Homo sapiens: one gene and its partner. The protein of the gene in region 2 interacts with the protein of the main gene of each other region in a pairwise test. Each region holds a gene or a part of one and is shown on either strand. Other genes may lie near its edges.

What was found.
Region 1: the proteins of PRMT2 (region 2) and WASL interact in a two-hybrid assay, tested with the Homo sapiens proteins (one large-scale study listed by BioGRID and IntAct).

The regions. Positions count from the first base shown.
Region 1 is NC_000007.14:123,689,988-123,693,754, reverse strand, and holds part of WASL (actin nucleation-promoting factor WASL), read left to right. Parts: intron 1-887; coding exon 888-1,408; intron 1,409-3,767. UniProt on the Homo sapiens protein: Regulates actin polymerization by stimulating the actin-nucleating activity of the Arp2/3 complex. Involved in various processes, such as mitosis and cytokinesis, via its role in the regulation of actin polymerization.
Region 2 is NC_000021.9:46,649,166-46,652,932, reverse strand, and holds part of PRMT2 (protein arginine N-methyltransferase 2), read right to left. Parts: intron 3,359-3,767; coding exon 3,194-3,358; intron 1,128-3,193; coding exon of another isoform or gene 927-1,127; exon of another isoform or gene 89-926; coding exon of another isoform or gene 1-88. UniProt on the Homo sapiens protein: Arginine methyltransferase that methylates the guanidino nitrogens of arginyl residues in proteins such as STAT3, FBL, histone H4. Acts as a coactivator (with NCOA2) of the androgen receptor (AR)-mediated transactivation.

The sequences.
Region 1 (3,767 bases), on a different chromosome or scaffold from region 2:
GCCTCAAGTGATCCTCCCGCTTTGGCCTCCCAAAGTGCTGGGATTACAGGCATGAGCCACCATGCTCAGCCAAGTTTATTTTTCTGTTATATCTTACATTTTCACTGATGTGGAATAAGAATGCTAATATCATGACTACTGGAATAATAGTAATTTTTGTTAATAACTTTAATTTTGCAGTGTATGGAAATTCTCAGTTAATTTGTTAATAACCAGTTCATGTCTCTGGAATAAGTAATTGAGCATTTCAACAAAGCAACCAGCCTCCTATAATGCCATTACTAGAATTGCAGACAATTTTTAGAGATACAGACATTATGCTATAAAAGTACAAATGTAAATTAAATGACAAAGGCTTACATTTTGAAAGGAAAGCATTATATTTGGGCTTTAGCGCAGATTAATGTGAATGAATTCTATTAAGCTATGCTACACTATAATTCTGAATGTGAATTGATTTTACTTAAAAAAATAAGTGTACTTGATTCTTTTTTAAAGAGGGAAGGTATTTATTTTTATTAAAATGTAAACTAATGCTAATTAACAAAATGTTTAATTTCATTGGTATATTTTGTTATTATTTTGTAAAGTAGAAAATGTTTATTCCCCTTACTTTCAGAACTGGTACTAATTCCAAAAAAATAAACTATTCTGTTTTAGCTCATATTTTTTTAAGAACCAATAAGAAAGTGATCTTTAGGCTGACAATTCTCAAAAAAAATTGTGAGATATCATCTGTGCTCAGGTATCTTTGTAAAATAAAATGCAAAGATGAGACCCTTTTTTGGTATTATTCAATTTTTATACATGTTAAAATGAATTACTTTTCAATATGATGTTTATGAGAAGAAAAAAGCATGCCTTCTTTTTTTCTGTTTGCATTTCAGCACCACCACCTCCACCACCATCAAGGGGAGGGCCACCTCCTCCTCCTCCCCCTCCACACAACTCAGGTCCTCCTCCTCCTCCTGCTAGGGGAAGAGGCGCTCCTCCCCCACCACCTTCAAGAGCTCCCACAGCTGCACCTCCACCACCGCCTCCTTCCAGGCCAAGTGTAGCAGTCCCTCCACCACCGCCAAATAGGATGTACCCTCCTCCACCTCCAGCCCTTCCCTCCTCAGCACCTTCAGGGCCTCCACCACCACCTCCATCTGTGTTGGGGGTAGGGCCAGTGGCACCACCCCCACCGCCTCCACCTCCACCTCCTCCTGGGCCACCGCCCCCGCCTGGCCTGCCTTCTGATGGGGACCATCAGGTTCCAACTACTGCAGGAAACAAAGCAGCTCTTTTAGATCAAATTAGAGAGGGTGCTCAGCTAAAAAAAGTGGAGCAGAACAGTCGGCCAGTGTCCTGCTCTGGACGAGATGCACTGTTAGACCAGATACGACAGGGTATCCAACTAAAATCTGTAAGTAAGCTTTTTTTTTTTTCATTTTAGATCCTTTATCATAATGGAATTTTAAAGTAATTTATTGAAAGATATTTTTGAAAAGTGTATTCTTTTTTCCTCTTGCTAATTCATTCTTAACCCTATAAATTTAAAAATACTTTTACATGCAGTGACATGCACAAATTTTTAATTCAGCTTTGATACATCTCTATAGCCATGTAACCCATATCTCTATATCCAAATGTAGGGTATTTCTGTCACCCCAGAAGGTTTTCTCATACCTCTTCCCAGTTAATTTTTCCATAAACAATCACTGATCTAATCACCATAGATTAGTTTTACCTATTCTAGAACTTCATGTGAATGGAATTTTACAGGATGTTTGCAATTCATTGTTCTAGACTTTACTTTCAAATAAAAGGTACTTTAAAGAAAAATCCTTATTAAGCTGTGAGAATTAAAAATAGCCCTACTTGAAACCAATTGTGATCACCTTAGGAAATCTAAACCAGTAGCTTTATGAAAATTAAATCATGTTCCAAAGTTTTCATGTTCTAAAATTTAGATTAGTAGAGAATCAGACCAAAAAAATTGAAAGAGTTGTAATAGAATTTCTGACAGTGATGGCAAATAAATTTAGGATTATCTGATTTGGATGAGGTAATCATTTAATCTTACAGGTCATTTAATCTTCTAGAGTTCAGCAAACATTTTCCTATAAAGGATCAGGTAGTAAAACCTTGGGCTTATATAGGCAGTATGGCCTCTTGTGACCACTCAGCTCTGCTGTTTTACCGCAGAAGCACCACAGACAATACATAAATGAATGGACATGCTTGTGTTCTATAAAACTATATTTGGACACTGAAATTTGAATTTTATATAACTTTCACATATCAAAAATACTCTTATTTTCTTTCAGCCATTTAAAAATGTAAAAATCAAGCTTAATTTTTAGATAGTTTTAAAAAAAAATCCAAGAACAGGCTGGATTTGGCCCATGGGCTCAAGTTTGCTGACTCCTATCCTAGAACCTAACCTGTCTACATTTACATACTTCTTTTGGAGCCTTTTATAACATGTTCTCCAGGACTTCAGGGAGGTCATGGATGATAGAGTTTTTCTGTGAAGTAAATGGAGACGACAGAGGATGTTTTAATTGAAAATTATTTCCCAGTATAGGAATTAAAGTAACTTTCTAGATCTCAGAAACTTTGTCTAAAAGGAGGGTAATAGATAGGAAGCACAACTAATTGAATGAAAACATGTAAACATTAGCATAGATCTAAGAAGACTCTGATCTTTAAAATATATCTAGCTCTTTTCTTTACATGTATTCAGGATGACACTTAAACCTATGAACAGTCATCTCTGTTCTCTTTCCCCCTTTAGATCAGACTAAAGGCCTGTCAAGAGCAGTTGAAGAACTTTAAAGAGTGGTTAGTGGGGAGAATTAATGTCAAAATGACCACAGCCCAGCTTTTACCTTGGAATCTCTGCTAGTTCCTGTGTCATTCTCATTCCCGTAACTCTCACTCCTAACCCACCTTTTTGTTTTCCTTTTCTATTTCCTTTTCACAAACCAACTTTGTTTCTTTCTCTCATTTAGCTATAATAAGGTGATTTAAAATTTTTAACGAATAAAGTTGTATCCTCATTTATTTTAAAAAGTTTAAGAGTTAAATTTCTATTTACTTTCTCCATAACTTTCTCCCATCCCAACTCTCCCTTTCTTTCCAAAAAAAAAAAAAGAAGCAGCAAAACCTGTTAATTGATGTGTAAGAATGGGGGCCATTTTTATCCTAAATAATCACTTTCCTTTTGATTGCATTTATTGCAATCATAGGGTGCATAATCAGTGAACTATTGGCATGTTATACATGTAATCCGAGTTCGTTATTTTTTGAAAAAGACCATTTTGTGGTTGAAATTTCTATGGCTATGTTTCTTTAAATTTTTTGAGTAAATCATCAATTTATTCTGTGATGAATATGATTAACATAAAACCATAGACTTACTTTAAAGAGCTAGTAGGAGGTATTGAATACTCACATATATTTTTGAATTCCATGGTTTTAGTACCTCAAATAGTACTTTGTTCAAGTAAGCACTTCAAAAAATGTGTTTGATGAGAGTATGCTCACTTCTGCTTTGTGCTCTCTGCTTTACATTATCACATTGCTTAAAGGTAGTCTAAATGTCCCTACCGCTGTTGTACCTCCTTGAGAGCCTTGTGCAGAAATACAAAGCTCTGAAACTCTCTGTTATCTTTTTTCATTTGTGGTACTTCTATACTGGAAATAGTTAATACATAATGTTTAAAGCCAAAATACTAAGGAATGAATCTATATCTTAGGGGGAACCACTTTGAATTTTT
Region 2 (3,767 bases):
ACTGGCTAGTGGGAGACTGCTGAGTGTGCAACCTGCTTCTCGGAAATCGTGGCGTGGCCTCAGGAGAACAAGCAAGATCCTGTAACAACTAATGATAACGCAAATTAGGGCTCAATTGTCACCTGCTTTGTTAACAAAAATGATTAAATGGTCTGTTGACAATCTAGGACACCTGTGGTATCTTTACTTGCGTCTCCTTCAGAACTTTGCTGCTTCTGGAAAAACAAAAAAATTTTAATGCTCTTTGACTTATTCTGCCCTATTTTCCTTCAAAAGGCTTTACCAATTTACACTGCCAAAAAAAGGGCATGGCGGTGCACACTTCCCCACAACCTCAGCATCGGGAGCATCAGATATTAGAGGATTGCTCAGCCAACTTCCCAGGTCAAAACTATTACAGTTACTTTCAAATTGTTGGTGGCATTGAACAACGTTCAAGCTCCTGGCCTCTGGCATTTCTCTGCCTTTCTAGTCCCTGCTCACCTTCCATGAGGTTACCTTTATCTTATGCTTTTCTTATTGCAACTCTTTACGTCACACAATTCTTTAGCTGCAATTCTTTAGTTGCATTTACCATTTAATAGTTTTTAGCTGTGCTAATGTATGAAGGGGAATTTTTTGTCAAGTATTTTATTTGACAGCTTCATTATGAACTTGGTTCTTAGAAAAACCTTTCCCATCCTAACAACAAATAAACTTGTAGCAATTTTTTTGTTTCCTCCTTTTCTTAAATATTTAACTCTTGAGCCCATCTGAGGTTTATTTTAGCAGATGGTGTGAAGAAGGGCCTCTTTTCTCCAAATCAGTCGTTCCAGCACCATCTCTGAACAACTACATGCCCTTGCTGCACTGACTGAAAGCTGCCCCTCCTATGCTAAACGCACATGCACTCTTCTCTGTCTTCAGACTTTTACTACATGTCAGCGTCAGAGTAGGAAGATGGGCCAGGAGAGATGAAGGCCTGAGGGCTGAGGGGCTCTGAGAACAGGCAGACAGCAGGCAAGGAGGACATGAAGAGGGACAGACGCACAGGTGCAGGGGAGAGGCAGACAGCAGGCCAGGAGGACGTGAAGAGGGCCAGACGCACAGGTGCAGGGGAGAATGCGGCAGCTCAGGAGAGGCGCAGCCTGGGGACGGAAAGTGAAGGTGGGTACAACCGCACCAACGACTCCCAGATTCATACCCTCCCTCCCTCAAATCCGACCAACCCTGTGCCCCAACAACTATCGCCATAGGAACTCTTGCAGCCCCGTCTGCCCTGTTCTGGGCCTCCTTGGCCTGAGTAATGATGGTGGTGGTCCCTCAGTCTCCCTGGGGGGGAGTCTGAAGTCGGAACTGCCTCAAGCCCTCACCTGCAAAGCTCCGCCTTCCCCCTCCACTGCCTGCACTGGAGAAAACCACCACATGGTCCTGTCTGACTCACCCCAGCACTCCTCCAAATGTCCTGCTCAGGGTGGCCCCTCCAGGCCATCGCCCACCGAGACCCCAGGCCATGTCCCCACTGCCCAACCAATAGCTGGCCCTGCACATCGGATGGGCATCCTATGTTCAAGACCCACACAGATGTCCACCCTCCCCAGGGCCCTCCCTACCCCGGCCCCCAGCCAGTCCTGGTGGCCCACTCCCTGCGGCTCAGGGCTGGGAGGCACCGTCCTGCTCACGCCAGGCCCCCATCAGCACATCCTGCCTGCTGGCCCTGCTCTGCATCCCCCACACCTGCCCCATGCCAAGCCCTGGCTCCTGCATCCTGACAATAAAGCCATGGTCAGTCCTGGAAGTCTGTGCACCTCCCACACAGAGGGGCCTCCCCTCACACAGAATGTCCCAGGCCTCTCTGCATGCTGGGGCTGGACCACAGCCAGTCCCTGGCCTCCAGTCCCGGCCACACATACCCAGGGGCCTCCAAAACACAGCCCACCTCTTACTCCATCACTCACACACCAGTGGCACTCCCTTCGGTGTCCAGGACGTGGCACAAAGTCCTCAGACACACAGTTCCCTACATCTGGCCTCTGCCTCCCTGATGCAACACAGTCTGGCCAATCCGGCCACTGGGCAGCCCTGGAACACGGCAACACGGTGAACACAGTGGCTACTCCTCTCCCCTCCCTCTGCCCCACGTCCCTCCTGTGTCCCTCTCACCCAATCCAGGGCACAGCCGGACACTCCAGCAGCCAGGCTTCCCCGTATCACCGCCCACACAACCTTGGCCTCACCACAGCCTCACTCCTGCTCTGTCCTCTTTTTGTCCCCGTGGCCGGGGCACCAGCTGTCAACAGATACTTATTGAATGGGCGCTGCTGTTCAGGGCAAAGGCAAATGCCCCTTCAGGGGGTAGGAGTGGAGCCCGTTTCTCCTGTGTGTCATCTTATGGCTCCACAGATGTTATTAATAAGCCAAGTCACAGCATGGACATTGAGTCTATTTACATTTATCTTCTGACAACAAAATTTCAACAGGACTAAAAGCCCAATGCCATCTGTTACCAGGGGAAACCGTTTCCTGGAAAGCAGCAGCCATACTCCACACTCCTTCACCCAGACCCCATCTTTCTGGGTCTCTACACTGAGACAAAGTTTCAGGTTGGGATGCTCCACTACAATGTCCTGTGTCCCAGGATGCTGAGCCCAGGAAGACAGCGCGGGCAGACAGCATCCAGCCACACTCCCGTCAACTTCCCTCCAAGCAGACAGCGTTTGTGCAGGGCATATTCACAGGCAACCAGAAAACAGTCCACTTCCACCCACATGTGAAACTCAGGGTGAGCAACCCTGACAGGACAGGCATATGCTGGCCCTACAGATGCCCAAGTGGCTTCACAGCATCACTGGGGCCAGTCTAAGGCGAGGAGACCCTGGCCAGGGACGAAGGCCCTACTGGCATTAAAGAAACAGCCTTACCTGTTAGGCACAGGATTTTTACAGATCCCCGAGGAGAACACAGTTCATGTAAATCACTCATGAAAATGTTACATGAACTTTGACTTAAATTTCTCATAAAGGCATTTTTTAAATCAGGTGAAAATTCAAGACACTGAGCCAATGTCCACACAAGAAATTAATTAGACCTCACATTAGGGAAAACATCAAAATGAATCACGCACGACCCTTGAGATCCTGAGGTTGGCCCAGCCGAGCCCGTGCTCAGAAGCCCCCCAGCTCCGGCCCCCAGCTGCCCGCACGCCCGCCCTCACCAGCAGGCAGGTCCCCATCCACTCAGACACCAGCACGTCCACCTTCTCGGGCAGCACCACATCCTCCACCTTCTGCTGGTACACGGTGATGATGTCAGCAAAGCCGTTCTGCAGGACCAGCTGCCCCGTGTGCTGTGCCATCTCACTGGCCTCCACCGCGTACACCTGCAGCAGCAGAGGCACCGTCAGCGTACATCCGGCCGGCACACGGCCCGTCATCTACTCTCCTGAGTCACAACCAGCATCACGAGAAATGGTCAATGACACAAGAGGGAAGCAGCATTCCAGACAGCAGAGGCAGCGAGGACTGGCCACACCTGCCCCTCCAGGGGCACCCAGAAAGGAGCCGCCTCTAACCCTCCCAACTGCCCCCACCTCCCGGACAAGACACAGACGCAGGGCTGCAAGTGGATGGAAGACTCGCATGCCCGAGCCGGCTGCCACACGCACAGCAATCTTAATCCATGACCAGCACAGCAACTTCTTAGCACCCAAGTGACAATGCTGGTCTGTGCCACATCTGAGGCCTGTCAGACAATTTCAAACCCAGGTTCTCAGGGAAGGGTCTGGTGGG